7 linked regions of the Homo sapiens genome follow. The protein of the gene in region 7 purifies or fractionates together with the protein of the main gene of each other region. This does not show direct contact. Each region holds a gene or a part of one and is shown on either strand. Other genes may lie near its edges. The genes, in order: ALDH16A1, LTV1, BCAR3, ARFIP1, OXSR1, NPEPL1 and PFKP.

What was found.
Region 1: the proteins of PFKP (region 7) and ALDH16A1 fractionate together in Homo sapiens (co-fractionation; one large-scale study listed by BioGRID). This does not show direct contact.
Region 2: the proteins of PFKP (region 7) and LTV1 fractionate together in Homo sapiens (co-fractionation; one large-scale study listed by BioGRID). This does not show direct contact.
Region 3: the proteins of PFKP (region 7) and BCAR3 purify together in Homo sapiens (co-immunoprecipitation; one large-scale study listed by IntAct). This does not show direct contact.
Region 4: the proteins of PFKP (region 7) and ARFIP1 fractionate together in Homo sapiens (co-fractionation; one large-scale study listed by BioGRID). This does not show direct contact.
Region 5: the proteins of PFKP (region 7) and OXSR1 fractionate together in Homo sapiens (co-fractionation; one large-scale study listed by BioGRID). This does not show direct contact.
Region 6: the proteins of PFKP (region 7) and NPEPL1 fractionate together in Homo sapiens (co-fractionation; one large-scale study listed by BioGRID). This does not show direct contact.

What each region holds. Positions count from the first base shown.
Region 1 is NC_000019.10:49,466,258-49,470,734, reverse strand, and holds part of ALDH16A1 (aldehyde dehydrogenase family 16 member A1), read right to left. Parts: coding exon 4,452-4,477; intron 2,355-4,451; coding exon 2,169-2,354; intron 1,872-2,168; coding exon 1,749-1,871; intron 430-1,748; coding exon 268-429; 3' UTR 1-267.
Region 2 is NC_000006.12:143,845,859-143,850,335, reverse strand, and holds part of LTV1 (protein LTV1 homolog), read right to left. Parts: intron 4,286-4,477; coding exon 4,112-4,285; intron 206-4,111; coding exon 118-205; intron 1-117. UniProt on the Homo sapiens protein: Essential for ribosome biogenesis.
Region 3 is NC_000001.11:93,678,389-93,683,507, forward strand, and holds the start of BCAR3 (breast cancer anti-estrogen resistance protein 3), read right to left. Parts: upstream 3,450-5,119; 5' UTR 3,210-3,449; exon of another isoform or gene 3,137-3,209; intron 2,983-3,136; exon of another isoform or gene 2,719-2,982; intron 2,467-2,718; exon of another isoform or gene 2,411-2,466; intron 1,862-2,410; exon of another isoform or gene 1,841-1,861; coding exon of another isoform or gene 1,816-1,840; intron 1-1,815. UniProt on the Homo sapiens protein: Acts as an adapter protein downstream of several growth factor receptors to promote cell proliferation, migration, and redistribution of actin fibers.
Region 4 is NC_000004.12:152,782,015-152,786,491, forward strand, and holds part of ARFIP1 (arfaptin-1), read left to right. Parts: intron 1-4,477. UniProt on the Homo sapiens protein: Plays a role in controlling biogenesis of secretory granules at the trans-Golgi network. Mechanistically, binds ARF-GTP at the neck of a growing secretory granule precursor and forms a protective scaffold.
Region 5 is NC_000003.12:38,252,537-38,255,984, forward strand, and holds the end of OXSR1 (serine/threonine-protein kinase OSR1), read left to right. Parts: intron 1-280; coding exon 281-355; 3' UTR 356-2,948; downstream 2,949-3,448. UniProt on the Homo sapiens protein: Effector serine/threonine-protein kinase component of the WNK-SPAK/OSR1 kinase cascade, which is involved in various processes, such as ion transport, response to hypertonic stress and blood pressure.
Region 6 is NC_000020.11:58,705,991-58,710,467, reverse strand, and holds part of NPEPL1 (probable aminopeptidase NPEPL1), read right to left. Parts: intron 3,346-4,477; coding exon 3,268-3,345; intron 1-3,267. UniProt on the Homo sapiens protein: Probably catalyzes the removal of unsubstituted N-terminal amino acids from various peptides.
Region 7 is NC_000010.11:3,073,584-3,078,060, reverse strand, and holds part of PFKP (ATP-dependent 6-phosphofructokinase, platelet type), read right to left. Parts: intron 1-4,477. UniProt on the Homo sapiens protein: Catalyzes the phosphorylation of D-fructose 6-phosphate to fructose 1,6-bisphosphate by ATP, the first committing step of glycolysis.

The sequences.
Region 1 (4,477 bases), on a different chromosome or scaffold from region 7:
CGAGGCTGCAGTGGGCCGAGATTGTGCCACTGCGCTCCAGCCTGGGTGACAGAGCCAGACGTTGTCTCAAAAAAAAAAAAAAAAAAGAAAAAAGCCTCATATCTGCCAGAAGTTGCTACACCCTTTCTTCTCGCAGAAGCACAGCTAGGGTTGGTCAGAGAGTTTATTGGGAGACACAGGAACCAGAAGGGGAAAGTCCCAGGTGTCTGTGGGGTGCATCTCCCCTTGGTGTGAGGTGTCCAAAATGCAGTAGGTGGCGCTCAGGCATCAGTCCCCCATAGGCAGCCACAGGGCCTTGGTCCGCGCCACTCGCAGCCCCAGCTCTGGGCCTGCCCCCTCGGCCTCCTGGTCCCAGGCCCGCGGGCAGCCCCTGCTCGCCCACACCGGTTTGAGGTTTCCTGCCGAGGCCCACTCGACAAACTGGGAACCCTGAGGGGAGGAAGAGACGGGGGTAAGCACTTCTGCAGGCTTGTTGCTGAGCACCTGCTTCCTCCGCGATGAAGACTGTTACTGACGAGGGGCTTCAGGCTGGACCCAGGCTCTGCAGCTACAATGCCCAGCTCCTCCCAAGCAGAACTTCCAGATGGTAGGGAAAAGCACTGGACCCAGTGGTTAGGGAATTTCCTCTCCCTTAACAGCCCATGTTGAAAGGAATGGGCCCCAAGGCTCTTGTCAACAAGTTCACATCTGTTACCAACAGGAGGTTTAAGAGAGTGGACGGTGGGGCGCGGTGACTCGCTCCTGTAATCCCAGCACTTGGGGTGGCTGAGGCGGGAGGATCGCTTGAGTTCAGGAGTTTGAGACCAGCCTGGACAATATGGCGAGACCCCGTCTCCATTTAAAAAGTAAAAATTGGTTGGGCACAGTGGCTCACGCCTGTAATCTCAGCATTTTGGGAGGCTGAGGCAGGCAGATCACGCGAGGTCAGGAGTTCGAGACCAGCCTGGCCAATATGGCGAAACCCCATCTCTACTAAAAAAAAACCCCCAACAATTAGCTGGGCATGGCGGTGAGTGCCTGTAGTCTCAGCTACTTGGGAGGCAGGAGAATCACTTGAACCCGGGAGGCAGAGGTTGCAGTGAGCCAAGATCGTGCCACTGTATTCCAGCCTGGGCGACAGAGTGAGACTCTGTCTCAAAAAAAATAAAATAAAATAAAATAAAATAAAAAAAAAAACAGTAGACTCAACCAGTTGTGCTGGCTCACACCTGTAATCCCAGCACTTTGAGAGGCCGAGGCGGGCAGATCACTTGAGCCCAGGAGTTCAAGATCAGCCTGGCCAACATAGAGAAACCCCAGTCTCTGCAAAAGAAAAAAATTAGCTGGGCATGGTGGTGCACGCCTGTGGTCCCAGCTACTCAGGAAGCTGAGGTGGGACGGTGGCTTGAGCCTGGGAGGTTGCGGCTGCAGTGAGGTATGATTGCATCTGGGTGACAGGGTGAGGTTCTGTCTCAAAATAGAAAAACAAAGCGTAGACTGTGGGCCTCCAAATCTAGGGTGTGGTCCTTAGCAACGGGCTGTCCCCTGAGACGAGGTCTTTGGGCTAGGCAGCTCTCAGGCCCCTGTTGCTAAGGACAGCCTCTTCCTTAGTAACTTGAGTCCTAAGGGCGGGGCCTCAAAACCTTCTTGTCAAGGAGTTTCTCCCCTTACCAACAGGAGTTCTAAGAGGGCGGGGCTGTGTTTCCAGAAAAGGAGGAGCCTGTTTGAAGTTTGAGATGCTGAAGATGGCAAAACAGAACAAAGAGCACCTGGGCTGATCCGAAATACCACATGGCCTGGACGTCTTGGTGCAAGGCCAGGCAGCGGGTCAGATGGTCCCGGTCTCCTGTCACCACGTTGGCCAGGCCTGCTGGGAACACGGTGGCCATGTCCTAGGGGATAGAGAGAGTGAAAGGTTGGGGAGGCCGTGGGGGCAGGGCAAGGAGTGGGCATTCAGGGGGTGCCCATGGGAGGGAAGGGGATGGGGGGTCATGGAGGAGAAAGCCCCAGGCCTAGGGTGAAGAATGGGCACTGGGTCCCCAAGGAGTGAAGGTTTGGGTGCTGGGGCTGGGGGCAGCATGGGTACCACGGAGGGTGGGGTAAGAGACAAGCTCCTGCCGACTTTGGGGCGCCTTTTTCTGCTGCCCTGAGGCTACGGGGAGGAGAGGCAGGAAGGCAGGGGGCTATACCTGGCAGACCTCCAGGGCCAGCAGAGGACAGGCCGCACTGGGCACCATGACCACAGTGTTGCCGTAGGCCAGGGCGGGAGCCAGCAGGGACACGAAGGCAAGCAGGGGCCACTCGTCCGGACACACCACAGCCAGCACACCCAGCGGCTCCCGCAGGCGCAGCACAGGGCCTCTCAGCCCGGCTACCTGCAGGGACAGGTGGGTCACGTGTGGGGCAGGGGAGCCCCGCCCGCAGTAAATGAGAGATCCAGTTCCTCTACATTCTCCCCAACACTTGGTGTTGGCCCAAACCGCACCATTGTGGAAGCCCCTGCCATTTCGCAGACGCTGGTCAAAGTGAATCATTCCACGGGGGTTCGGGCGGTGAGAAACATCCTGCATAACCGCCTTTCTTTTTTTTTTTTTTTGAGACGGACTCTCACTCTGTCGCCCTGGCTAGAGTGCAGTGGTGCGATCTTGGCTCACTGCAACCTCCGCCTCCCGGGTTCACGCCATTCTCCTGCCTCAGTCTCCTGAGTAGCTGAGACTACAGGCACCTGCCACCATGCCCGGCTAATTTTTTTTTTTTGTATATTTAGTAGAGACGGGGTTTCACTGTGTTAGCCAGGATGGTCTCGATCTCTTGACCTTGTGATCTGCCCACCTTGGCCTCGCAAAGTGCTGAGATTACAGGCGTGAGCCACTGCGCCTGGTCTATTTTCTTTTGTTAAAAATAAATATGGTGTTGGGGGGTGGGAGGCAAGGGGAGGGAACTTAGAGGGCAGGTCAATAGGTGCAGCAAACCACCATGGCACGTGTATCCCTATGTAACAAGCCTGCGCGTTCTGCACATGTATCCCAGAACTAAAGTAAAATAAAATTTAAAAAAAAGAAGGCCGGGTGTAGTGGCTCACACCTGTAATCCCAGCACTTTGGGAGGCCAAGGTGGGCGGATCACGAGGTCAGGAGATCGAGACCATCCTAACATGGTGAAACCCTGTCTCTACTAAATATACAAAAAAAAAATTAGCCGGGTGTGGTGGTGGGCACCTGTAGTCCCAGCCACTCGGAAGGCTGGGGCAGGAGAATGGCGTGAACCTGGGATGCAGAGGTTGCAGTGAGCCGAGATTGCGCCACTGCACTCCAGCCTGGGCGACAGAGCGAGACTCTGTCTCAAAAAAAAAAAAAAAAGAAAGAAAGAAATATGGTTTGGCCCATGATATAGTTCAGATGTCCCACCCAAATCTCATGTTGAAATGTAATCCCTGGCCAGGCGCAGTGGCTCACGCCTATAATCCCAGCACTTTGGGAGGTCAAGACAGGCGGATCACTTGAAGCTAGGAGTTCAAGATCAGCCTGGGCAACATGGCGAGTCTCTTGTCTCTGCAAAAATACAAAAACACCCAGTCATGTGTGCTGGTGTGTGCCTGTGATCCCAGATACTCAGGAGGCTGAGGTGGGGGGCTCACTTGGACCTCGGAGGTTGAGGCTGCAGTGAGCCATGATTGTGGCACTGCACTCCAGCCGGGTGCCAGAGGGAGACTGGTGCCAACATGCCCAGCTAATTTATCTATTTTTTGTGGAGACAGGGTTTCACTGTGTTGCCCAGGCTGGTTTCAAACTCCTGGCCTCAAGCGATCCACCCACTTTTGCCTCCCAAAGTGCTAGGATTACAGGCGTGAGCCACCATGTCTGGCCAGGTATTTTTTGTTTTTTGTTTTTTTTTGTGACACAAGGTCTCACTCTGTCACTCAGGCTGGAGTGCAGTGGCACGATCTCGGCTCACTGCAACCACTGCCTCCTGGGTTCAAGCAATTTTCCTGCCTCAGCCTCCTAAGTAGCTGGGACTATAGGTGCCCACCACCGTACCCAGCTAATTTTTTGTATTTTTAGTAGAGACCAGGTTTCACCGTGTTGCCCAGGCTGGTCTCGATCTCCTGACCTCGTGATCCGCCTGCCTCAGCCTCGCGAAGTACTGGGATTACAGGCGTGAGCCACTGCGCCCCCAGGTGTTTCTTTACAGCAATGTGAGAACCGCCTAACAGCCCACTAAATTGATTTTAGGGTCCAGGAATGGGTCGCTATCCATCATCTGGCGAACGCTACTCTACGAGGCGGGTTGTGTGCCCACTCACTGTACAGATGAGGGAACTGAGGTAGGGAGAGGTGAAGCCACTTGCTGATGATCCTGCCGTGGAAGGCGGTGGGGCTGGGCCCGAATTCCAAGCCTGGGTTATCTCACAGCCTCTGGTCTGAGCCCCACCCCGCCTGCCCAGCTGGCCCAGGTGCCCACAGACCCTTCACCTGCAGGGTGTGGCCTTGGGCCTGCA
Region 2 (4,477 bases), on a different chromosome or scaffold from region 7:
TCCAGACATATCTCAATTGTTTCAATACTTTACTGGGGATAGAAAAATCCTACATCATTTCTTTATGTTTTGCAAAATACATTTATCCATATGAAAAGATAAAGCAATTAAAAATACCTGAAACTGGAGCTGCTTTATTTAACAATCCAACATCTTCCTCAAACTCTGAAGCAAACACTGATGAAGGCAACTTAATTCCAGTGCTCTTGAAAAAGAAATTGCACAATGGTTAGGTTTATTTGGAAATTCTTCTTAACTAGTGTACCGGGTTGAAGTCCCCCCCAAATCAATGTCCATCCAGAACCTTAGACTGACCATATTTGAAATAGGGTCCTCTCAACTATAATAAGATGAGGTCTTACTGGACCATGGTCCTATAACGAGACCACATGAAGACAGAGACTCACAGGGGAGAATGCCATGTGCAGATGACAGCAGACTGGAGTGAGGCCTCTATAAGGCAAGGAATTCCAAGGAATGATCACCGGTAACCTTCGGAAGTTAGGAATGAGCCATTCAACAGCCTCTCCCTCTAAGCCCCCAAGAAAAAAACCAAACCTGCTGATACCTTCATCTCAAACTTCTGACCTCCAGAACCATGAAGGAAGAAATTTCTGTTGTTTTAAGTCACCTAGTTTGTGGTAATTTGTTACTGCAGTCCTAGGAAACTATTACAACTACATTCTGTGTTCTCTCACCTGTGCTCCAGGTTGTATATATGTTAAACATGTATATTCCATCATAAACCCAAAAGTAACTCTCTATAATACATCACAATGCCTTCTCTAGCAAATTATTCCATTTATCCCTCAGATCCCATGAGGTATCACCATGTTTTACCAAAAGAACAAAAACTAGGAAAGTTTAAATGGCCCACCTGCCTGAGAATGATCAGTAAGTGAGATTCTGGGATTCAAATCCCAGAGTTTCTTAACTCCACTTGCCTGAAATTTCAAACCAAAATTAAACATTTTCCTCTTAAACTAGAGATAATGTCCTAATCTCTAGTAATGGCACAGCCCTTGTATGAATTGGCAATCTTAAATCCTCGGGTGGTTATAAATCATTTTGCTCTGTCCTATGTCCCCTTGAAATCTCTTACATACAGTGATTTCACTCTATTCTTTGGGGCATCACCTCATTTATAGTTAACCAAAACATAAATGACTGCAACCGCTCATATAGCTAGTCTATATCTACTACAACCTTCATACCCATGGCGAGATTAAGCTCCTTTAATAGTTTTTCATGTGACCTTCTTGAGTTTCTGACAGGTCTCAATTTTTCACTCTGTATTTAAGGCCCTGGTTCTCAAGGACCTATAAAATCAAGGCCTACTCTGTGTATCCAAATTTCTCAGTTATTCTATATGACCATGCAAATCAAGTTCATTCCTCAGTCATGTAATAATGCAAAACACTTTACTTGGCGCGCATGTGCCTGACACGGAACCACAGTGCTCACTGTCTCGGCAGCCTGACTGAAAATGTTCCTTCTCCTGTCAACAGTACCCACCACTTGGTGGCCAGCTCGGTTCCTACCCTCCGACATGAAGCCCTTTCTGATCACTGTCCTAGAACTTCCCTTTGTGTGAACTTCCCGCCTTCTTCACACGCTGCAATCTACTCAAACATGTGCTTGCTAGCCTACATTCTCTGACTGGTTCTTATGCTTGTTTCCTCTCCTTGACCAAACAGTTCATAACGTGAGGACAACCGCCATGTGTTATTTATCTCTGTGCACCTCACCACCTGCCCTATCCTCAGCCCAGGAGGAGGCACAAAGCTGGAATGTGCATCCTCATTGGCTCACTGAGAAAGCTCTCTGAATTGGAAGCCTCTGAGGAGCATGAGTAAAGGCTACATATGGCAGTGTACACACAGCAAGATGTTATGGCTTCCAAAATGAGTTTCTCAGTAGCACAAACATGGGCAAAGATGTTATTTTGCTGTAGAGTATATTTTTAAGAAAACAGCTTTACTAAGACATCATTCACATACAATTCACCTAAAGTGTACAATTTAATGTTTTTTAAGGATATTACATTATTAATTACTTAAAATTGTAGTAAAATCTACATAGTCTTTTAGGTTTTTAAAAAGGTACCTTTGTGATATTTATCCTTAGAAGTTTGGGGTTAAACACAAGGTCAGTTTGTGTTAAATGAATTTACCTTTGTGAGATATTTTTCAAATCTTGAAAAGTAGTCAATCACATACACGATTAAGAGTTTAAAGAGAAATTACTCTGTTTTTAGAGGAGTGCTGTGTTTTCATTGGTTGCAGTAGTTCTCAACTACATGACATTTGCCCAGCTACTTTCCACAACAGCACCACCATCTTTCTTTCATGTCAAAATCAGGGCCTGCTCAAGCATCAATCATTTCTATACTGCCTTTTTACACTGTCTTACACTGTTTCTAGGGGTTATTCATTATTTCTAATCTACTCGAATTTGGTGGTGTGTTACAAATTAAAGTAAAAAAAGTATATGGGACTAATCCATATTTTTTCATAGCTCTTCAGAAAACCAACCACACTTCTGTTTTTAAATACAATTCAGCTGTCCCTGCAAAGGTCACTGAAGTGTCCATTTAAGAGCCTTATCCTGTTAAAAAGCCAATTAGTGATTGCTTTTACTCAAAATGAATTAAGGATTAAAAGTTAGTCTTATACGACCGGGCGCGGTGGCTCACGCCTGTAATCCCAGCACTTTGGGAGGCCGAGGCAGGCAGATCACCTGAAGTCGGGAGTTCAAGACCAGCCTGACCAACACGGAGAAACCCCGGCTCTACTAAAAATACAAAATTAGCCGGGCACAGTGCCACATGCCTGCAATCCCAGCTTCTAGGGAGGCTGAGGCAGGAGAATCGCTTGAACCCGGGAGGCGGAGGTTGCGGTGAGCCGAGATCGTGCCACTGCACTCCAGCCTGGGCAACAGGAGCAAAACTCCGTCTCAACAACAATAACAACAACAACAAAAGTTAGTCTTGTACTGGTCAATACAAGCCAGGCAAGACTTTACTAAGAATTTTCTCCCTTAGATAAACAAGTTGAGCCACTAAGGAACCCCTTCTCTCCTTCAATAGGTTATAGAAGCAAGTGAGCCAATAAGTCCCTACTACCAATAAAGCCTTGAGGAAGAAGGAATAAAGAAGTTGGTTCTCTATGACAGAGATGTGGTGGGATTTGGGGCGTTACAAAAGAGCCACAACCTACTTAGTGAACGAGCAGCTGCAGTTATTACCTTTCTTTGGGATGGTATCCTGAAACCTAACCTTTCTGAGTCTCCTTAAGCAACAAGCTATTGCCTATAAGAACTACAATCACATCTTCCCCAAGGAAAGGAATGCCTAGACCATGACAGAATTGGGGAATGAGGAGCAGGGTAAACTGGTGCCCTTTCTATCTCTTACCTTTTGCTTATAAACCTAATGAATGTCTCCTTTTTTTAAAGTGCTAGGTGATATAAAAGTTTCCCACAGGAAAATTTACTCTACATCAAATTAAAAATAAGGTCACGGAGGCATACAACATGGGCATTCTTAACATAAACAGGGGAGAAAACAGAACTTAGACTAACAGCACTAATTTCTTATAAACACGTACTATCATTTGTCCTGAAAGAGAAGGTATTAAAGTGGACCGAACATTTGTTTACAAGACAGGAATGTTATTATCATCCACTCATTCTGTTTGCTTATGAGTAGCCTGCAGCTTTTACAAAAGTGTTAAAGATCTGAATATTCCACAAAAGTTAAGTCCTATCTTAGAACAAGAGTTTATGATCCTGAAAACAGTTATGTTGTTAACATGTAGAATGTCAGCTGCTTTTCTCCTATTGAAAAGTGCTGTCTAACATGGCCATGTCTATCAATCAAAAGTTCTGAACCTATAAAAAGGCTGTTACTGTTGACACCTGCCACCAGAGAAGACGTGACCTATTCTCTCCTGATGGTATACACATGCATACACATATATAATTTTAAGTGGAGGCGTGGTCTATCTTTGTGCTCTTCATACGGACACCATTTCTTGCCCCAAACAGATATCTTGATTCAAAAATGATTTCTTCACCTCACTCCCACAATTAAATTGCTGAAAAGCCTTACTGGAATTACTAGCGTTTCTTCTTTCTCCTCTCTCCTGTTGTGTGCACTGAAGGTACTTGAGGGAATAAGCTCTGAAGGCCCAGATGGTTCCTTCAGGTGCTGCAGGTAGTCATAGTCGTCATCAAAGAACACTCCATACTTCCTCTGTTCTGCTCGCCTTTCTTCATTGTCTATCTATAAACGAAATGGAATTAGTACTTTCTTCACTATCTATAAACAAAATGGAATCAGTAAGCCTTCCAAGGATAAGGCATGGGAATATTACAATGAGTACAGCTTTCCAAGTAGGAGGCAGATGGCACATGAACATTTTGGCTGATGGGAAAAAGACAAAGAATTCTTGACAAACAGGAAATGTACAGCTTC
Region 3 (5,119 bases), on a different chromosome or scaffold from region 7:
GGGACAGCATTAAACAAGACAGAAGTGGTCTGTCCTCATGAAGCTAATAATACTCTGGAGGAAGCAGACAATAAATTATGACCATAAGTACTGGTAATTCCCAGTCCATTTTTCTAGATAAGGGAAATAAATGTTCATTTGATATATATTCTCTGAGGGCTTATGGTGTACCAAGGCTAAGGATATAATAAATTAGACAAGCTCCTGCTCTCATGGAGGAATCCAACCTATACAAACAAGAAAATGAGTTAACATCCAAGTTGTAAGCACGCTAAGGAATATAAACAGGATGAACTGACAAAGGATGACTGTTGCGGGTGGAGAGCTACTTTACATTAGGGTGGACTGGGAAGGCCTCTCTGAAAAGGTAACAATGACATGAGACCTGAAAAAAGGCAAGGGAAGGAGCCAGTCAAAAAAAGGTCTGAAGGGGGTTCCAGGCAAGGGATCTGGCAAATGCAAAGGTCTTGCCATAGGAACAAGCGGTTGGAATGACAGCTGATGGAGACTAAACCCAAGTCTCCAGCCTCTGGCTCCCATGTTTTCTCCACTTGGAAATATTTCTGTCTCAATGTCCCTAGTCATTATATACTTCTTATGTACCATTTGATTTTTTAAAAATAAAATGGTATGACTCAGAACCTAGGCTTTGGAGGCAGATATCTACAGGTTCAAATCTCTACTCTGCCACTGACTTACCAGCTGTATGGCCTGGGACAAGTTACTCAACCTGACGGTTTCTCATTTTAAAAAATGACTTAACAGCTATTTCATAAGATTGTTGTAAAGATTAAAAGTGATTGTGTATACAAAGTTCTTGAAATACTGCAAACACTTAGTAAATAGCAGGTCCCCTCTAAGCAGGACAGGGGCTGCTCTTATCTATCTTGTCAGATAAGAGTCACTGTATCTCTGTTATACTGAGGGTTCACAAAGGAAGTAACTCTGAGAGTTCACAAATGAAGACTGCAACTGGGAAGGATGGGGAGGGAAACGTTTTAACCTAGAACAATAGATGCAAAGACACCAAGCCAAGTAGGACATGGACACGGACACAGACACAGACACACGTACAGGCAAACCAAGTGAGCCTACATGCAGTCTTTAGAAAAAAGCCCAGGTGAGACTCTGGCCATCTGACTTCTCTCTACTGTGCAGGAAAACAAACACAATGTCCTGACTCAGTCTAATGCCAGATTTTGAAATATTATACAAAAGTCAAAGACTCTGCATCTTGATATGAAAATCTGAGACTCATGTGAACATCAGGAACAAGAGCGAGGCTGACAAACTTTACCACATGTGCTGCCTTCCTGGGCCTGGTCAGTCGCTGGGCTTTGAAATGTTTGTGAACTGAGGCCCAACTCACTTGCTTTACAATGATGTCTCAAAGAAACTGATGATCTTGCAAGCTGAGGCAGAGATAAGCAGCCCACTTGTTTGGATTTTACTCTTTTATTTCTGAAACGGGATATTTTCAAGTTTAACTCATAATGGTTATCTGATGTGAGCTTTAAGAACTTTTCATTATATTTTAAACTCTGGAAATGTAACCGTCTCGGCTGCCCCATGACAGAGAATTTACAACTTGGATCTGTAGTTTTATAACTTCTCTGGAGAGTCAGATGGAGAGAGGAGATGAAACAACCACACATATTCAATTGGCTTATCCACTTAAAATGAAGTTTTGCTTGGGTTTAGGAATTAAGAGTATCTCTTTATTTTTGAAGTAAACTTATGAAGTCTAGCCAAATGATTCAAGTATGAATAATTCCTCCATGGATTGTATTTCAAGCAACACAGTACAGGATTTACCCGATAAGGTTCTTAAGATTAGCATCCATTTGACAAGCAGTTCTGCCTATATGAACAGGAGATTTAGACCTTGGTTAGTCATCCTGGAAATGCCAGCCTTCTCAGCAGCACTTTAGAGAAAGTTGGAGTTGGAGTGGTGTGGGATCCCCTGGCTTGGCAAGGTCTTTACGTTATCCTCAATACCCCCTGGCACGCCCGCAGACAAGCGCTTTGCCTGTGGGCTTCCCATTGTTACCCGGGTAGCCCCTTCCCACTTGGACCTGTGTTGAGCTGGGCCCCACCCCCAGCACTGAGGCCTCTCCCAGCCTCCAGGATCTCAACTCAGTCCCAGGCAACACAAGGGAGGCTATCAGCTCCCAAAATGACCTTCCCTCGGCCAGCGTACTTTCCTTGGGGAGGTCTGTGTAGCCTTGGGAGATAAAGTCAAGGTTTAAAACAATCTGAATGCACGGCTCTACTTTCCATCTCAGCTAACAGCTTTAAGCGAAAACAGATATGAGGTTAGGAAAATGGTTTTTCTCCTTTGCACCTTGCTTCAAGCGAGTTAACCCCAACCATGACCCGACCCGCCGCCCCACGGAACACGCCGCCTTGCCAGATGCTTCGGAGTCCGCTCAACCTCCTCCTCGACGAGTGTCTACACCTGATTACACCGTTTTAAAGCGGCGGCGCCCTCAGCGGCCTAAGTGGGTAAGGACAGTTGGGCTGTACGATCTATCGGAACCTCCTTCCCACCGTCCCTCCCTTCCTTTGCCTTCCCTCGCCTCTCCCCACCGCGACGCAGAGGGAGCAACACAACCAACTATTCATTCTTTCTCAACAAAGGGAGAGAGGGAGGGAGATGTTGTCAACAGTTACAGGGCAGGCTCCTTCGCTTTCTTTGCAAACTTCCCAAGAGATTACCGGAGAAACTCGCCTCCTCGGAGCCTTGGGCTTCCACCAGAGCGCTCTGGGCCCTCGCATCTGCCCGACCCCGGCCGGCTTCTGCGAAGAGGGGACGGGCGGGACAGGGCGGGGTGGCCGGCAGAGCAGCTCCGACGGGCAGGGGGTCGGGCGAGGCCAGCGCCCGGGAAGATGCCGCTCGAGTGCCACCGAGCAAGATGCCTGGCCGCCAATCGCTGAGCGCTCCCCGCCGTGGGCCACGTCTCGGGGAGTCCCAGCGCGCTCGGAGGGCCTGGAGAGCGCAAGCCCCAGCCCCACTTCAGTCACCCCCGCCCCCAACGCCAAATCCGCTGGCGGGGGTGGGTAGGGACCAACAAACGCCGGCTCTACTTTCCCCAGAGCCTAACTTTGTCCAACAAACTTCCTAGCGTGTCCTCACCGGGGTGGGGGAGGCCCAGGCGCCCCGGGAGGAACAGCACCCCGAGGACGCTGGGCGCGCGGCGGAGACTCACCTCCCGGCGCGGCGCTGGGCGCTCGGGCTCTCAGGATCTCTGGACCTCCGGCTGGGGCTCAAAGGCGCCGCGCGGCCGGCCTCGCACCGCCCGCGCCGCGGCTGCTCCCGGAGCTGGGGACGCTCATGGTCCGCGGGGCGTGCCCGCCGAGAATCCCGCGCGCGTCTAGCCGGTGCGCCCCGCAGCTCCGGCTCCGGTCCCGGCCCCGTCCCCCGCCCGGCCAGCAGCAGGCGCAGCTCTGAGCCGGCGGCGCGCACTCCGGCCCTCAACTGGTGATTTGCGGCTCCGCGGCCCCACCCCGGCGAGCCGATTCGCGCTGCCTTGCGGAACCCCCCGAGACATTTACATTCGGTGACCTAGCCAGGCCCTCCTCTGCCCGGATTTTAGAGTTTGGCTCTCTTCGTATCTCCCCAAGGAGCCAGTCCTCAAGTATAGCTCGATCACTTCCTTTCTGAAGCTCTCTCCAGAGACAGCCTCGTCGAATCCACTCCTTCCCCTTCCCCGCGTTATTTAATTACCCAACAGATCTGCTTTGCTCGTCTGCAGACACCTGGCTGGCTTTCAATGTGAAGGGCTTTGATGAGACAAAGCCCCAGGTAACCACAAATGAACCATCCACGGGAACAGGCAAATCAATTGCACTCGTATGGACGTATTGAAAGCAAAGTGCGAGTTGGCGGTGGCACTTCAGCACTAGATGATTTGGTGGGGTGAAAAATTGGAGCCCACTGGAAAAGACTTAACACTATCTTATATCAAGATCCATTATAAAGTCATAGAAATAGTAGAAGGATAGACAAACTGACCAATGGAATAAAGTCCAAAAACAGATTTACAATATGTGGTCACTTGATTTATGTCAGGTGCTGCTGTGCTGTATTGGGGGTCAGATTAGCTCTCTCTTTCCAGTAAATGATGCTGGATCAACTGAATCCCCCCATCCCCAGTCAATTCCAGATGGAATTTTTCTTTTCGAGACAGAGTTTCGGTCTTGTTGCCCAAGCTGTTGTGCAACGGCATGATCTTGGCTCACTGCAACCTCCGCCTCCCGGGTTCAAGCAATTATCTTGCCTCAGCTTCCCAAGTAGCTGGGATTACAGGCGCACGCCACTATGCCCGGCTAATTTTTGTATTTTTAGTAGAGACGGGTTCACCATTTTGGTCAGGCTGGTCTCGAACTCCTGACCTCAGGTGATCCACCCACCTCGGCCTCCCAAAGTGCTGGGATTACAGGTGTGAGCCACCGCGCCCGGCCTCCAGATGGATTTTAAAGGTAAAAAGTAAACCAATAACACGATCCAAAGAAAATGTCCAAAAAAATCTTCATTACCTTGGGGTAGACAAAGACGATGTCTTAAACACATGTAGTACTAATATAAAGAAAAAAAACTCATCATTGGACAAGATTAAAATTAAGAGCTTCTGTTCATGAAAAGACACCACGAGTGAAAAGGCAAACCGCAGAGTGAGAAAACATAATTGCAACACATACATCCAAAAAAGGTTTGTTTACAGATATATAAAGAACACCTACGGATCAGCCAGAATAAGGCAGAAAATCCAATTAAAAACAGGCAGAATATTTCAACTGTCCTCAAGAGAGGACAAACAGGCATTTCTCAAAAAAGCCAATAAACATATGGAAAATATCTCAATTTATTAACCATCCCAAAAATGCAAATTGATATTTCAATGTGATCTAACTTCATACCACCCAGAATGACTAAAATTAAAGGGCCTGACCATACTGCTCGTCAAAATGAACTTTTTACAACCACTTTAAAAACCTGCTTGGCATTATCTAGAAAAGCTAAATTAACATGTATCCTATGACCCAGCAATTCCACCCCTAAGTGTGCACCCAACAGAGATGTATACACATATTCACCAAAAGATGTTGAAAAATGTTT
Region 4 (4,477 bases), on a different chromosome or scaffold from region 7:
AGTGTCTTGTTGAAGTTAGTGAAAACAGGTTTTGTGTGTGTATGTGTGTGTGTGTTTTCCACTTAGGCAGTATCTTGTTGAAGTTAGTGAAAACAGGTGTGTATGTGTGTGTGCTTTCCCAAACTGTGCAAAGGAGATATATAGCTTCTTGATAGATTAAAACCACCACTTAGGCAGTGTCTTGTTGAAGTTAGTGAAAACAGGTAGGGGTGTGTGTGTGTGTGTGTGTGTGTGTGTGTGTGTGTTTTCCCAAACTGTAAATTGTTTGCTTTGGGACCAAGGAAAGGAGAATGCAGGGATTCTTCTAGTTTGATATTGAAATCTCTCCTTTAAAACATTAGTGTTTCTAAATTCCTTCCTAGACTTACAGAAGGAAATGAGGCTGCCCACTTTATTTCCTGATTTGTGGTTTTGAGGTTTCTTCTTAGGGATAGCTGTTTGTGGTCCATGCTCTGGAGATCCAGTGGATTTACAAACTGATGTGCCTATCTTTAATATGTATTAAATATCACCAACCAACTAGGCACAGTTCAGAGTAAAAAATTTAAATTCTAGTTGTATTTTGCTTTCATTTTCTTAATTTTTTTTGCTTGAGGCATGTACCTTAGGATTTGATTTGGCTTTGCTATGAAAAACAAACAAGATGTTTCAGTGGTGTGGTCCTTTGGAATGTTGTTGCTTATCTTGACATCCCCTTTCCCTCCATTCTGTATGAGATATTTTAATGATTGTTTCTCTCTTGTGAATACGTTAGTATCCTTCCAAGCTTAATGTAAGTTTTAGAGTACATATTTGAACTTACTGATTTGGTTGTGAATTATTTGTTGATTGAGGGTTGCAGTTCTAAAGGTCTGATACTTTTTTTTTTAGAATGTTAACTTGAAGAGACCTATACAGCTCATCATAGTCTATCATGAGTATCCAGTTTCTTCTGCTCACAGAATAAGTTTTCCTCTGTCTAGCAACCTCACTTGGGGGAGCAGTCAACATAAGTTTATAGAGAATAGCGTATGCTAGGCTGGGCACGGTGCCTCACACCTGTAATCCCAACACTTTGGGAGGCTGTGGCGGGTGGATCACTTGATGTCAGGAGTTCAAAACCTGGCCAACATGGTGAAACCCCATCTCTCCTAAAAATAAAAAAATTAGCCGGGTGTGTGTTGCATGCCTGTAGTCCCAGCTACTTGGGAGGGGCTGAGGCAGGAGAATCGCTTGAACCCAGGAGGCGGAGGCTGCAGTAAGCCAAGATCCCACCACTTCACTCCAGCCTGGCCAACAGAGTGAGACTCCATCTCAAAAACAACATCAACAACAGACTAGCTTATGCTAAATTAGTTTCCTTTTAAGGTAATGACAAATTCGGAAGATATTTTATATCTAACACTGTAACAGTTACATTTATTTGCTTACCATGTGCATTAAGCTAAGTGCTTTACATTATTATCTCAAATGATAACCTTATAAAGTGGCTAAAGTCCTCATTTCTGTAGGTGAAGAAAATAAAGCTGAATGATTAACTGAAGCTAAAGTAGTCTGCTCAGAATTGCGCTGGTGGAGCCAGTGCATGGCTCCACCTACGTTGTCTGACTCTAGACTACTACTGTAGACAACTTCTACCATGCGTCCATTATGTCCTTTTTGAAATGAGTTGGAGATATATCACCTGACTTTCTATCAGGTGTTGAGAAAAGGTTGTTTCCTTTCTTAATCTTCAGTGGATGAACATCTGGTTGAATATCATACTGAGAAGTTTGACAAAAAAGTGAATTTGGTGGAGGCAGTTGGTAGGGGTTTCCTATGGGGATGGATATAAGTCTCTGGTGTGTGTGTGTGTGTGTGTTAGAACACACACACCTACTTGAAATAAAGAATTGTAAGTATTATAAATTCTTGAAATGAAGATTCAAATAATAAGCAGATGGTGTGTGTGTATATGAGGAGGGGAAAATGTGAAAATGAAGATTATAAGTAATAAACTGGGCATTGTAAGAGTCTGGAAGTATAAATAAATTTTAGAATAATACATTTGGGATGGAAAGAATAAATTCAGAATGGAAGAAGGAGTAAATTAAACAGGAAACTTTAATATGGTTATGGATGAAAAACTAAAATATTTGTACAGAATGGAAAGTGAGTTGTTCCACTTAATATGGAAGTTGATGACTTAGGATCATGACAATCTAAAAGTCAGATATGTAGCACTACTTCTGGATGTATGAAAAAGACTATTGGCCTGAAAATAATTTTGTTTTCCTTGATCTTTAGTAGCTTTTGGCAGTCATGGAAGCTGCCGAATGGCTCTTGCAGATTAACAGATATTCTTTATGAGACAAAAGTATTTATTTTCTTTTTCTTTTTCCTTTATTCCTATTCTCCTCTTTCTCCCATCTCTCATTCCATTCTCCTCCATTCCTTCTAAGCCTTTGTCTTAGGATGGGCATAGGCAGGTGTTGCTCAAACCTTTAGTTGTTCCTGAAAAAGGAATATAAAGTCTCTTTATGAAATACACTTTTTTCCCTTAATGAACATACTTATTTAAGTGAATGCTGTTTTTCAGAGTAGGCAATCTGCTTTGAAATCTTCTTCTAGTATGACTGTCGGTTCAGATTGAGACATACAAAAATGAAGTTCTTGCCTGGCTTCGTCACTTCGTGACCTCAGTCACCAGAATCTGAATAACTTTGGGTATTTGGAAAAAATCAGATCCTCTCTTGAAAGACAAAGATTTGGGGATCTGAAGGTAGTTGCAAAACAGGCAATTGCTCAAATCTTTTGTGAAAATATGGCAGTGTCTTTACCATGTTCTCACCTAAGATAAGAATTTATATTTTATTTTTGTATATCTGTGATAGCATTGGACTAGCAGCTCCTTGATGTTGAAGCTTGAGCCTCATTGGTCCCTGGGGAACAGTGACATACTGCCTTTGGAACAGGATCATAAAAGCAGCAGAGTTAGTGGTAAGCCCTAAATCTTCCAGAGGAGGGAGTCAGTTCGCCAACTCCAGTTTCTGCTAGCCTGAGATACTCATCATGGCACACATAAAAAATGATTATAATTGTATGGCAGACTAGAGCCAGGCCCTCCTTGGTTCCTTGGAAGCTGTGGAGTGGGGGAATGGGTCACAATTTCAGCACATCTGTAATCCATTCTTGGCACACTGTTTGGAAATCTTTGCCCTAGAGAAAAGGAATATGTTACTCTGTTTAATACCTTCTGTTTGTTTAGCATGTAATAATTTACAAAGCACTTTCACATACATCCTCATTTTATTTTTACTCCAGCCATACCAAATAGGTAGAGCAGATAACATCACCACATTAGAAATAAAGAAATTGAGATTTAGGTAAAGTGCTTTGTCCAGGGTCACATACCTAAAAAGGGATGGATCAGGAATTTATACCCTCAGTGGAAAGAGCCCCTGGGTTTAAGCCCGTGATCTGTAATCTCTAAAATGGCCAGGACCTTATCTGTTTTGTTTCAGTGCTATATATTGCCCAGGGTGGTCTTGAACTCCTGGGCTCAAGCGATCTTCCCGCCTTGGCCTCCCAAAGTGCTGGGATAACAGGCATGAACCACTGCATCCAGCATAAGTATTATAAATTCTTGAAATAAAGATTCAAGTAATAAGCAGAAAATGGAAAGGATGTTTTTTCTATTCCTCTAATCTCTCCACCCACCACACCTCTCTCCCAGTTAATTTGAAAAGTAGGTATTGGGGAATCAGATGAAATATATGAGAAAGCTGTAAACCTGCACTGTCTAATGCCAGGGATGCTAGCCACATGTAGCTATTTAAGTTAGTTAAAATTAAATACAATAAAAGATTCAGTTCCTCATTGTACCAGCCACATTTCAGTGTCAGTATCATATGTGGCTGGTGGCTACTTTATTGGACAGTGCAAATTTAGAACATTTCCAACAACATTGGCCAGCCCTGATAAAACTTTAAAATGCGACATGATATGATGTGATACATAATTCCTATATTGTTGAACCACGAGTTTAAAAATCTGCTACCCATGGTGCCTAGCAGTTTTTGTTTTAGCTGATGAAATGTTATTGCCATGTTCTCTCTCAGCTTTTTGTTTTAACTAAATCCAGATGGTCAAAGTCTAAGTCTAACATTTTTCTTGGATATTTGGGGATTATAGTTAGCTGCTTTTCTAGGATAAAGATGTCAGCTTCATTAAGGGCATGAGTGTTTTCTGTCTGCTTTGAGCTGTAGATCTGTATGTCTTGCTGTCTTGTTGACATCCTTTCTTGAATATCTTAAAGGTATCTCAAATCCAGTATGTCTAAAATGAAACTGATTTCCCCTTCCCTCCCTACAAAACTGCACAACGTTGGTTCTTTCTTTGTTCCTTTTTTCAGTGAATGACACAATTATCTTTTCATTGTAAAATCCAGAAAACTAGAAGTGATCCTTAATTCCCTCTCCCTGATAGATCCAATGATTGAACAAGTTTTTAAAGTCTT
Region 5 (3,448 bases), on a different chromosome or scaffold from region 7:
ATGTTTCCCTTTGAGTGGCCACTCTTCCTCTGTCCATGCCAGGAAACCTCTGACCCCAGAGACCCTTGGCTATTCATAAGAGAAACTATTAGCCAGTCTGACTCTAGCTGTTTACCCAGCCCCCCTCTTTTCTGGAATAAACACCTTCGTCAGTCTCCTATTTGTATCCTAGGGACCTGTTGCCCACTGCCTACCTTCCCACTATCCCATGTCTGTTTTATTTGCTACCTGCAAGTTTGTTTATAAATAATCACAGTTTCTCATTTTGTTTGGTTCTTAGGCATCTGGTGTCGAAGGCTCAGATATTCCTGATGATGGTAAACTGATAGGATTTGCCCAGCTCAGCATCAGCTAAACCACAACCCTGGAAGAGGCGGCCTAAGGAGATTCCACACATGCGTATCTCTGTTGCTTCTATTGGCCTAAACCCACTACTGCCAAAGAACCCAGCAACAAACCTCCCGGCTAGGAGCTTTAGAAGTCTTTATGTTCTTCCTGCCATCATTCCTCCTTTTCCCACAGGGAAAGAAAAGTTGGATCACTAGTGGCCAGCATCCCCAGAGTTCCGTTAGTAAACTTACTTCATATGTCCCCTGTCTTCCTCCATCTGAGAAGTGGCCCATGTGCTTCAAGGCCCAGGAGGGAGATCTGTCAGCTCATTCTTGCCTTACTCCAATGATGGCCCAGGTGGAAAAGTAGCAGCTGTATCGGGCTTCCTCATCCTGCCTGTTCCCCCACACCTGCCAGGATATGGACATCTTGGGATATCTCTTTACCACTGAAGTAGAATTGATTGTTCAGCTGGAGCCCAGAGAATTTAATTTAATGTTTTTTCTTTGTACCTGATGTGAATTCTAGCAACCTTTGTTAGGAAAAAGCACAGCCTCAGATGGAGGCAGCCTAAACTGTGTTCTTGTTTTGTTCATGGTGTTTCTAAGCGTTTTGCTGAAGCTGCTCTCAGGCACCCCCTTCTTCATTGCTCTCTCCAGAAAGGGTTGCTAGCCTTAACTTCAGCTGGTGCAAAACATCTGACTGTAGCCGAACTTCAGCCATCAGATCCTTCAAAGTGGAACTTTGGATTGTTTTTACAGACAACATCGAGTAATGGCTTGTAAATGTGAATTTTGCCAGAGGTGGTTTTTGAACAGGAAAATCATAATTCATATCATTGGAGAAGTATTTATTTTCAAATATCAAATTGAAGAAAAACTCAATCCTCCCATGAAAATCAGTTCGCCTGGCCTCCAAGTCGTGAGGAAATGGGTATGCAAGGCTGAGATTTCTACAGCAATAAAGGAGACACACACTGGGCCAGAGAGGCCTGCCTTCTGCCTGCTCTCCTGCACTGACCCTTTGGAGGGGGTCTCTGTGTGCTGAAGCTAACTCAAGATGGAAAGTGAAACCACATGTGCCGTGACCTTTAGGTTTTATGAGTAGACAGTGTTCATTTGATTTTCTACAGAAATAATATAAATTATTCTTTAGGTTTAAAAAAGAGCACTCATAATGCAATATGTGAATAATCAGTGAGGTTGATTTTTCTTTTTTCCTACCGTTTCATAGTCTTTGTCTAACTGCTAGTAACCCTACCGAGTTTTATATATGAGTGGGATACTCAATCTGGCCTTAAAAAGATACACAAAGATGGGCTGTGGGTCCCTGGAAAGGGGGAGAGTTGCCCTTTACAGAATCACTCGAGCCCTTTCCAGCACTGTTGGTCTGATGAACAAGGTTGTTTTACCTTATTTTCTCTTGGAACATATCTGAAAACCTTCCCCACAAATAACTTGTCACACCTTTTGTTTCATTCTGAGTCTTTAGTTTTAGTCATGGGCTTTCTTCACCTGCTCTAGGTGCAAAGGCATGTTGGGAAAGAGATGGATGTTGGGGAGGAAGAGAGGAGATGGATTTCAGTTGGGAGTTAGGAGGAGAGTAGGTGAGATGATCAGACACCGGAGTTCAACGTCCCAGCAGTCTTGGTAAAAGGAGGGAGCCTGCTGAGCCAGGAGGGAGAAAAGAAGATTGACCAGCTTGCTAGAAAAATACTTAGCTTTTCTTTTTCTTTTTTTGTGGAGGGGGGACGGAGAGGAACAAGGATGGGGAGGTAGGAATGAGGTATAGAAAAGAGATAGCATCTTCTTTGGCACAAGACTAGTGGCTTACCGCTTACCTTAGAGTTTTGTTTTTTTTTTTTCAAACCCATCAAAATCTACTTATTTATGAATCCAAGGGGTGGCAGCATCACTCTGTTCTAGCATTCTTTGTGGAGATGGTCTGGTGCCTAGCTGGGAGTGAGCAGCAGCCCATCCCCTGTTCACTTTCTCTAGCCCATCATTACCTGTGAACTGCAGTGGGGCAGTCATGGCAAATAGAATTGGGCTGGGGTTTCTCCTTCTTTTCAGTTCATTGTTTGCCCTGCTAGGAATTAGAAGACAGACACCATGTCCCAGGACAGTGTTACTTCTTCTGCATGATGTGTGGTAGACTCCCTTTGCTGGCTTGTGCAGTGATACTGAGAAAATACATGAACAGAAACTGCCCAGGTGGAACAGCACGTAACCTAGTGAGTGACTGTACTCCTTTCTAGGAATGCTGATTCAGAGTGCACCTCTTTGACTAGGTCCCAGGATCCCCTTGTCCCTGGAGTAGGGACTAACTATAGCACAAAGTAATATGTGCCAATGCTATTTGTGAAATGTTTGGTCTTTCTAAACGACTAAAGGATTTGTTGGGTTTTTGCTTAAGTTTTGAACCAAATCCTAGAGCCAGCTGATAATATTTAATAATCTGGAGGAGAGAATAATGATGTACCAATAAGTGGAGATTCCTCCTTATGATGTATGCTAGGTTATGGAAGATGTAAAATATTCAACTTTTTCCTCCTTTTTTTGGACTTTGTATTTTACTGCATGTTTTCTTCATTTTTAATCAATAAAGAGTAAATTGTCCTTAGTGGTGTATGGACGCTTTATTTTAGTGGCCGTTGGCGGAGAGCTGTGGGTTGTGGGTCAAGGAATCACCACCAACTTTAATTGTTCATGCGAATAGAAGCCAAAGTACATATAAACTGTAAAGTGTGTCTGTTGATCTACAAATTATCTAGAACCATTAAAGCCATTATATAGTTGGGGAAACTGCAACCCTAAAAGGGAGGGATGAGATCAGCCCAAGGAATTGGATAGGATGGGATATGGAACTCCTTTTATTATCTTTTGATCTTTTTTAAATCTTTGGTTTTGCTTATGCTGTTGGGCAAGGAAGGATGCCAGATTCAAGCCCTTGGGAGTCTCTTTCGAAAGTTCAGAACAGGGCTGAACTTATCTCTTCTTGGCTTTGATATTGCAATGGTGAAGTTACATGTAAGATTCTAGGCTCCTTTGTATTCCTGTTATCCTCCCACTGCAGGAGGAATCTTCCCTCATCATCTGCCCTTCCCAACAGCAGTGGC
Region 6 (4,477 bases), on a different chromosome or scaffold from region 7:
CAGAGCCCAGGGCCACCGAGCTCCTGGCGTACCCTTCCATCTTTGAATGGTACATCCTCTTTCTAAAAAGTTCAAAACATTTCACTGTGAAATAATTTCAAACTTACAAAAAAATTGCAGAAATAGTCACAAACAGCCAGGAGCAGTGGCCCATGCCAGAATCCCAGCACTTTGGGAGGCTGAGGTGGGCGGATCACTTGAGGTCAGGAGTTCAAGACCAGCCTGGCCAACAAGGTGAAACCCTGTCTCTACTAAAAATACAAAAATTAGCCAAGGGTGGTGGCACATGCCTGTAATCTCAGCTACTCTGGAGGCTGAGGCAGGAGAATCACTTAAACCTGGGAGGCGTTGCAGTGAGCCGAGATCGCACCACTGCACACCAGCCTGGGCAACAGAGCAAGACACCATCTCGGGGAAAAAAAAAAAAAAAAAAAAGCCACAAACAATTCCTCAACACCCTTCACCCAGATTCTGCCAATGTCAGCATCTTGTCCAGCCATGGGACAATGGGCAGCAGGGGGTAGTAATCACCAACACAGGACCATCACCTCTCGGGACCATCCAGATTCCATGTGCTCCTCAGACGTCCAGATCAGATCAGACCACACATCAAGCCTGGCCTGCTTGCCCTCCTTAATCTGGGCGACTGCATAGTCTGGCTTTGTCTTTTGTGGCCTTGGCACTTTCAGTGCTGGGTTTGTCTGACGTGTCCTTGTGACTACAGGCAGGCCATGCATTTTTGGTGGGAATCCTGCAGAAATGCTCTGTCCTTCCCTGTACACTGCCTCTGGAGGCATGTCAGGTGGCTCTGTCCCTGCCCTGGTGACATGCCCTGGGACACCTGGTTAGGCTGGGTTGTGAGTGTCACCACTATAAAGCTGCGAGAGGCACTCTGAGAGCATTTGACTGTCCTCTTCCCATCCCACTCTCATGCTCCAGTTCCAGCACTGTGGGCCACTCTCACCTGGAATGAAGCCTGGCTGTGGGGTGACGACTTCCTGTTTCCATCACTACCTCTGCAGCCTGAAACTGGGATTCAGTGTGAGAAACGGTTCTCCCCCATTCATTTATTCCTTCAGTGATCTATTCCTACCAGTGTGGACACGTGGATGCTGATTTTATTCTCTGGGTAAATGCATTACCCTGAGGATTGATTCTGTGGCTCAGACAGAGGCGTATTCCTTTCTAAGAGGCCAACAAGGATATGTGAAGGCCAAGCAGGACATTCGCGTTCACAGTGGAGCCTCCAGGCTGGAGCTCTTGTGGGAGGGGGATCTTTGTCCAGAGTGGGGGTGGGGTGTCCTCAGCACCCCTCAAATCTAGAGGTGCTCCTCCACCTCTAGAGGCCGCAGCACCTCTAGAGGTGGAGGAGTGCTGAGAACACTCACGGCTGCTGCCTGATGAATCTGTGATCATTTGTCAAGTGGCTTCCTGTGAACAGGGAATTCAAGCTCAGAAGAGTCTTCCTGCTGGGGCATTCCCAGCCAGCCTGTCCCAGAGGCAGGACAGACCCTCTGTTGGAGGAGTAACCAGGGGTGAACGGCAAAGACGGCCACAGAGGGCTGGCCACACGGCTCCTCCAGAACCACTTGCCCACCCCTGCCCCCGTGCCACCCCAGAGCAGCAACTGCTCCCTTCAGAGAGAGCTGCCCAGCGAGCACCGCACAGCTGGGCCCGTCCGCCTCAGCATTCTTCTGGTGAGCCCATCTGCCAAAGCCACGGGGCCTGGGCAGAGGCAAGGAGGAGGGCCAGGTAGTGGGAGCCCAGAGCCACCCTGCCCCGTGGCCTATGATGCTGGGGCAGTCAAGACCCTCCTTGAGTGCCAGCCGTGTCCCTTGGTAGTTTATAACCAGTGAAGGAGTAGCGCACAGAGGACACATGCTCCTCCTCCAGCCTCTTCCGACAGGCTCTGCAGTGGACGGGCCACGGCAGGTGCTCATGGAGGCATGGGGCTTGCAGGCTGCGTACAGCCCCAGCTGTGTGCTCAGCACGAGAGAAACAGCCGTGAGCCCTAAGAGGCCGTTTCCAAACCCGTGCAGAGCACAGGTGAGGGCCTGCCAGCCCCTCCTGCCCAGGCCGCCTCAGCCCCGCACCTCCGTGTCCCCACCGGCTGGGCCTGGTAGCAGAAGCCCGTCACACAGTCTGGAATGTGCACGGCCAGCTGGGAAGCCCCGGCAGAAGGAGCTCCTTCCTCCTGGGATTCCTCCTCCTCCCTCACGGCCAGGAGCAGGACCCTCCAGATTGGAAACTACTTGCCAAGGCCTTTTTGTTTTTCCATTTCAAGTTTACCCCAAGGAACTGGGTTGCTGGCCTGAGAAAGGTAGGCTAGGAAGGTAAAACCTCGGCTGATGAGTCAATGCACACTCCTCATTGGCCTGTTTCTTTAGACAGGGTCTCGCTCTATCTCCCAGGCTGCAGTGCAGCAGTGGGATCTTAGCTCACTGCAGCCTCAACCTCCCGGGCTCAATCGATCCTCCGCCACCTCAGCCTCCCAAGTAGCTGAGACTACAGGTGCGCGCCACCACGCCTGGCTAGTTTTTAAATTTTTTTTTATAGAAACGGGGTCTTGCAAGGTTGCTATGGGTAGTCTTGAATTTCTGGCTTTCAAGCCATCCTCCTGCCTCCGCCTCCCAAAGTTCTGGGATTACCAGCATGAGCTGGCCTCTTCATTTGTTTAATAAGCACTTTTTATGGCCCCAGGGACATCTGGGCTCCATGGGAAGGTCACTCAAGGTCACCCCCCACCCCCCCCACGCCCCCCGAGTGACTACTGCCACTGAGCAAGGGCTAAGCATTGGGGCACCTGCCCACGCAAGAGAGGAAGGGGGCCTGGCCAGGCCTGGGGGTTGGAGGTGGTGACTTGGTGAGACCAGTCACCAGAGGCAGCTCTGCTGCAAAGAAGGGTTGCGGGAGGGGTACGCAGAACAACGTGTGCCCCTGCCATGAGCTTCTGCCTGCCACATGCCATGAGGGTCTAGGCCAGGCTTCCTCATTGAGCCAACCGCTCATGGGGCTCTGGAGCCAAGGCAGGCCCTGAGCAGAGAACATGGCTGCACCTTGCCCTCGGGGCCTCCCAGAGCAGCTCTGATGAAGGCGGGAAGCTCTGGGGGCCCCAGAAGAGCCTGGGGGCAGAGGGGGGACAAGCATCCGCTGGGGAGACTCGGGTAGGACCCTGGTGGGGCCTGTGGCGGGACGGACAGGGGAGAGGGGAGCACCCACGAGGCACACCCAGGATGCCCCTGCAGAGGGCGGGCAGGGCCCACTCACCTGCTTGATTGCGGCTCTGAAGGCCCCCAGGACGGCCGCAGCACCCCCGCAGTCTCGCTTCATCCCCGGCATGGTAGTCTGCGGGTGGTACAAAGGGACCAGGACAAAGGTGAGCTGTGAGGTCCAGGCCTGGCAGCGGAAGCCCCCCACCCCCACCCGGCCCCACGCTAGCCCCACCTTCCCCAGCTCTCAGGCCTGGGCAGCCCCCACACCAGGCCTCCTGGGCACCCACAGAACTCATGAACCTCATATTGGCCAAGTGGGGTGTTCTCCAGAAGCAACAGGGAGTCATGGCCATAGATGGTGAGGCTCCCTTTTGTTTTGACAGAACTTTGGGGTTATCAAACAGTAACTGCACGGAGGGGGAACCCGAGGAGATGCCCGGAGCTGCAGAATTCGCTGTGGCCGGGCTCTGACATTGAAACAGGGACCCCGTGCTTTGACGCCGGGCACCCTGACCTCAGTCCCGGGCTGCCACGCCGCCTGGGGGTCTGTCTGCAGGGCCACTCTCTCCACTCCTCCGCACAGCGTGAGAAGGAAGCTGAGGTCCAGGGAGCCTCTGGGGCTTGCTGGAGGTCCCTGGCCAGCACCTCAGGGACCTGGGTGGGCTTGCGTGCTTCCTGCACCCATTGCAGATTCCTAGTGTGCTTATGGCAGGGAGGAAGCCTGAGGGGCTGCTGCCGCAATGCAAACCTGCCCTGGCCACCTGTCGCCCCCCAGAACAGGGCCTAGCTTCCTCTCCCTGGCACTTAGAGGGCTTTACCACCTAACGAGACTTAGGCTCAGCATTCTCTGCCCCTCATCACAACCTTGAATGATGGTGAGGGTTGATGTGAACTCTTCGCCAAAATCAGTCACATCCACCCCCACTGACACCACCAGCAGTGAGGACACCTGTCGCTCCTTCATGTCACTGCCAGGTCTATCGCCAGAAGAAGGGGCCACCTCTGCCCTCCTGCTAGTTCACACCTCCTGGTTAATAGTTCACACCTCCTGGTTAACCTGGGTCTAAAGAGGGGCCACCCTTCTCCTGCAGTGTCCACACTGTTTCCTATACGCTGGTTGACAGTGTTACACATTTTTACATTTTACAGGTTCCCAAATCAAATTCACAAGTTCATATTTTAAATTAACAGCAGGTCCTCAGAGGTAAAGGTTTGGGTATGAAATTTACTGAATCATTTTTGAACCCTTATCTTATTACACAAGC
Region 7 (4,477 bases):
GCTAATCCATCTGGTTTTGTTTTGGTTTTGGGAGCCCAACCCAAGGATTTCCAGGAGAAAATAACATCTTCCTACCAAAGAAGAACCTTAACATTTGGAAAAACACCGCTTCGTAATTTGCAAAAATCCCAGTTTTCAGGGAAGTGAATATCTTGTCATGAGAACCAAAAATAAAGTTGGAGATAATGAGGGAGCGGTTTCATAGGAAAGATCTGGTCATTACTCTGACCAATTATTAAATCGCTTTCTTCATATGCCGTACTTTTTAACAGCTTCTTACTAAACCACAATGCAGGTAAGAGAGTCACAGGACGGTTTCTTCCTTGAGTCAGAGTCATCCTTGGCCTACACCAGGGCCTAGCAAGCATGACTTAAGTCACCCTTATTTCCTGGCTACTTGGAGGAGCTGGATTTCCCAGTTTACAAATCTCAGTTTCCTGGGATTCTGCTCTGATAAAATCTAAATTGCATTTTTTTTTTAAAAAGTAAGGAATAGGCCAGGCACGATGCCTCATGCCTGTAATCCCAGCACTTTGGGAGGCCAAGGTGGGCGGATCACGAGGTCAGGAGATCGAGACCATCCTGGCTAACAGGGTGAAACCCCATCTCTACTAAAAATACAAAAAAAAAAATTAGCCGGGCATGGTGGTGAGCGCCTGCAGTCCCAGCTACTTGGGAGGCTGAGGCAGGAGAATCGCTTGAACCCGGGAGGTGGAGGTTGCAGTGAGCCGAGATTGCGCCACTACACTCCAGCCTGGTGACAGAGTGAGATTCCATCTCAAAAAAAAAAAAAAAAAAAGAAAAAAAAAAAGTAAAGAATAGATGAACTCTAATGAAATAATCTGGGTCTATCTTTTACCTCCTCCATTGTCTGGAGTAATAAAGCTCCCTGCCTCGCCCTCTCTCACAGCACTGAGCCACTTTTCCTGAATTTTCCCACACTCCTGATCACTCACTTGTTAATTTCAATGCATAAATTCTTTTTGAGAAATAAAGTCAGTTTGCCGACTCCTCCCGCTGCTTTGTTAGAAAATGAGCTTACACCGCGCTGATCTCACTACTGCTGCCAAAGTTCCTTCTAGGGGTCTTTCCTTTGATAATGTAGGGATTATGTAGGCATGGGGAGGTGGGATGCCAAAGGCAGATTCTGTCAAGGTGCTGTTCCCTCCCCACCCCTGCCAGTTCAAAGTCATCGAACTGGGGGGCCTCTCTGACCTCCTGGACTGTGCAGACCACCGTGTCTTCTAGTAGGGTCAGGGGAGGGCTTGAGATAAATCTGTAGGGCTCTTCACTCAACCACCAACCCACTGTCCAGCTCGGGTGCCCCAAGTGCCACCTCTGCTGGGCTCTGTGTGGATGCATCAGTGACAAGATGGGAAGCCTCTGGCCCTGGAAGAGCTTGTTCCGATCAGGAGAGACCCGAAAGCAAGAAACACAGTGAACAAATGCATGATGCCCATGGATGGATGGCCGTAAGTGCTAAGGAGAAAAATAACAAGCGGGGTGGGGGGTGTTGAGGGTGTGGAGGACAGGGAGGGGCTGCCATTGACAATCGGAGAGCCTGCAGACCTGCCTGAGAGTGACGTTTGGAGAAAGAAGGAAAGGGAAGAAGTTGAGGGAGTTTAGCCAAATGGACATCTGGGAAAGAGCTCAGGTAGCAGAGGGGCTGGGGCGGGGGCGCGGCGGCAGCATGCTGCATTCCAGGGTCCTCTGCGTGGCTGGGACAGTGTCGGCCCTCCCCTGCACATCCCTCAGAGCCTTCGCAAAAACACCCACATGGGGACCTTCTAAATACAGGCAGCACACGCCACCCATTGCGTGACCACACTGTCCCTCAGAGGAGCCGCTGGCCACGTGCGTCCCGTCCACATGGAGATGTGCTTTAAGCTTCTTTACACACTGGGTTTCAAAGACTTACTACGGAAAACAGTGTAAAATATGAATAATCTACAATAATTGATTGTTATCAAAATAGTGGATTGAATATAAAACATAGTTTTTTGCTTTTACCGGTTTTTACTTTTTTTTTTTTTTTTTTTTTTTGAGACGGAGTCTCGCTCTGTCGCCCAGGCCGGACTGCGGACTGCAGTGGCGCGATCTCGGCTCACTGCAAGCTCCGCTTCCCGGGTTCACTACTTTTTTTTTTTTTTTTTTTTGCGATAGGGTCTCACTCTGTTGCCCAGGCTGGAGTGAACTGGTGCAGTCACAGCTCACTGCGGCCTCCAACTCCTGGGCTCAGGCAATCCTCCCACCTCAATCTCCCACGGGGCTGGGACTGTAGGTGTGCACCGCCACGCCTGACTAATTGTTTTGTATTTTTTGTAGAGACTAGGTCTTGCCATGTTGCCCAGGCTGGCCTCAAACTCCTGGGCTCAAGTGATCCACCTGCCTTGGGCTCCTGAAGGGCTGGGATTACAGATGTTGAGTCTTGGCACCCAGAGTCCCCCACTCCCGGCCCCCTGCCCCGCCTTTCTTTAATGCGGCAACTAGATCATTTAAAATTGCATATATAACACAGGCCACCCACATGCAAGCCTCACTCTTGGGAGATTCTCCCGTTGGAGAAACCTCCAAGAAGCTGATCTGCCTGGATTTGCAAACTGCCCCACTGGCTCCAGAGGGAAGCCGCTCTGGAATCGGCTCTTCAATACTGCCCTTGAGTATACTGTGTACCTCTTGACTTTCGACCAGCACAAAGCTCCTTATTAAACGCTGACAAAAATTCCTTCCATTCTGTTGGGAGCAGGCCCCCCCAAATCTGGCCATAAACTGACCCTAAAACTGGCCATAAACAAAATCTCTGCAGCACTGTGACACGTTCATAACGGCCCTAACGCCCAGGCTGGAAGGTTGTGGGTTTATGGGAATGAGGGCAAGGAGCACCTGGCCCACCCAGGGTGGAAAACTGCTTAAAGGCATTCTTAAGCCACAAGCAGTAGCATGAGATATGTGCCTTAAGGACATGCTCCTGCTGCAGTTAACTAGCCCAACCTATTCCTTTAATTTGGCCCATCCCTTCATTTCCCATAAGGGATACTTTTAGTTAATTTGATATCTGTAGAAACAATGCTGATGACTGGCTTGCTGTTAATAAACACGTGGGTAAATCTCTGTTCTGGGCTCTCGGCTCTGAAGGCTGTGAGACCACGGATTTCCCACTTCACACCTCTATTTGTGTGTGTGTGTCTTTAATTCCTCTAGCGCCGCTGGGTTACGGTCTCCCCGACTGAGCTGGTCTCGGCACATTCCAGGTGCCATAATGGAATTAATTAATCTCCTATTGATAGTTTTTTGCTGGTTTTCCCACTTTTTGCTATTCTAAGCACTGCTATGAAGATTCTCCTTTAACCCCCACCTGCCTGTGTCTGTTGGAGCTCACATGCTCTACCTTCCAGCTGTAACAGCTGAGTGCCCATTCACCCCAAGCCCTGACACACTCAAGTCTCTGGGTCCCCTTGGCGGGATGTGTCTGTGGACACAGGGCTGCCCTGCCACGTGCCCCACCCCATAACCTTCCATCTGTGGCCTGCTCCTTGTGATACCCTAAACTTGTGGCCTCCCCTCCCCTCCTCTCCTCTCCACAAAGCCACCCTTATCGGAGACAGTCAGTCTGCTTCCCTCCACCTGCTTCCCAGTTCACCCAAGGCAAAGCCAAAGTCCTCCACTGGGCCACTCTCCTCTACGGACTCCTCCCTCACTGTCAGGTCAGGTCAAAGGGCCCCAACCAGAGGTTCCCCTGGGCCCTTTCATAAGACAGGAGCTTTTCCTCTCAGGTCAGGCTACAGGCACGTCGTACCCGCACCTCACCACAGGAGTGACAGCTCCAGGCAGAAAGGGCCTGGTTCTTTTGCCAAAATCCTGTCCTGACTCACCCAAGGCAGTCTGTTAACATGCACAATGATTACAGAAACACAGAAATAAGGCTGGGTGCAGTGGCTCCAGCCTGTAATACCAGCACTTTGGGAGGCCAAGGCAGGTGGATCACTTGAGGTCAGGAGTTCGAGACCAGCCTGACCAACACGGTGAAACCCATCTCTACTAACGATACAAAAAAGATCAGGTGAGCATGGTGGCGCATGCCTGTAATCCCAGCTACTTGGGAGGCTGGGACAGGAAAATCGCTTGAACTCAGGAGGCGGAGGTTGCAGTGAGCCGACATCAAGCCACTGCACTCCAGGCTGGGCAAGAGGGCAAGATCCCGTCTCAAAAACAAACAAACAAACAAACAAAAAAAACACACACACACACAGAAATAAAATCTTAATCGTAGTAAGACACAGCTGAAAAGATATGAAGGACTGACTCCCCGAGGCTACTGCATGCCACCCTTTCAATCATTTTCCATTCAGGAAACTTCGGATCAGATCATTTACATATGTACGTTTAGACAAGGGGTCCTATATTAATGAATCTTCTCTGTCAAAATCCTGGTCAAAGTCAGAAAACAATCCCATGGGACTCCTGGGAGCATCTCACA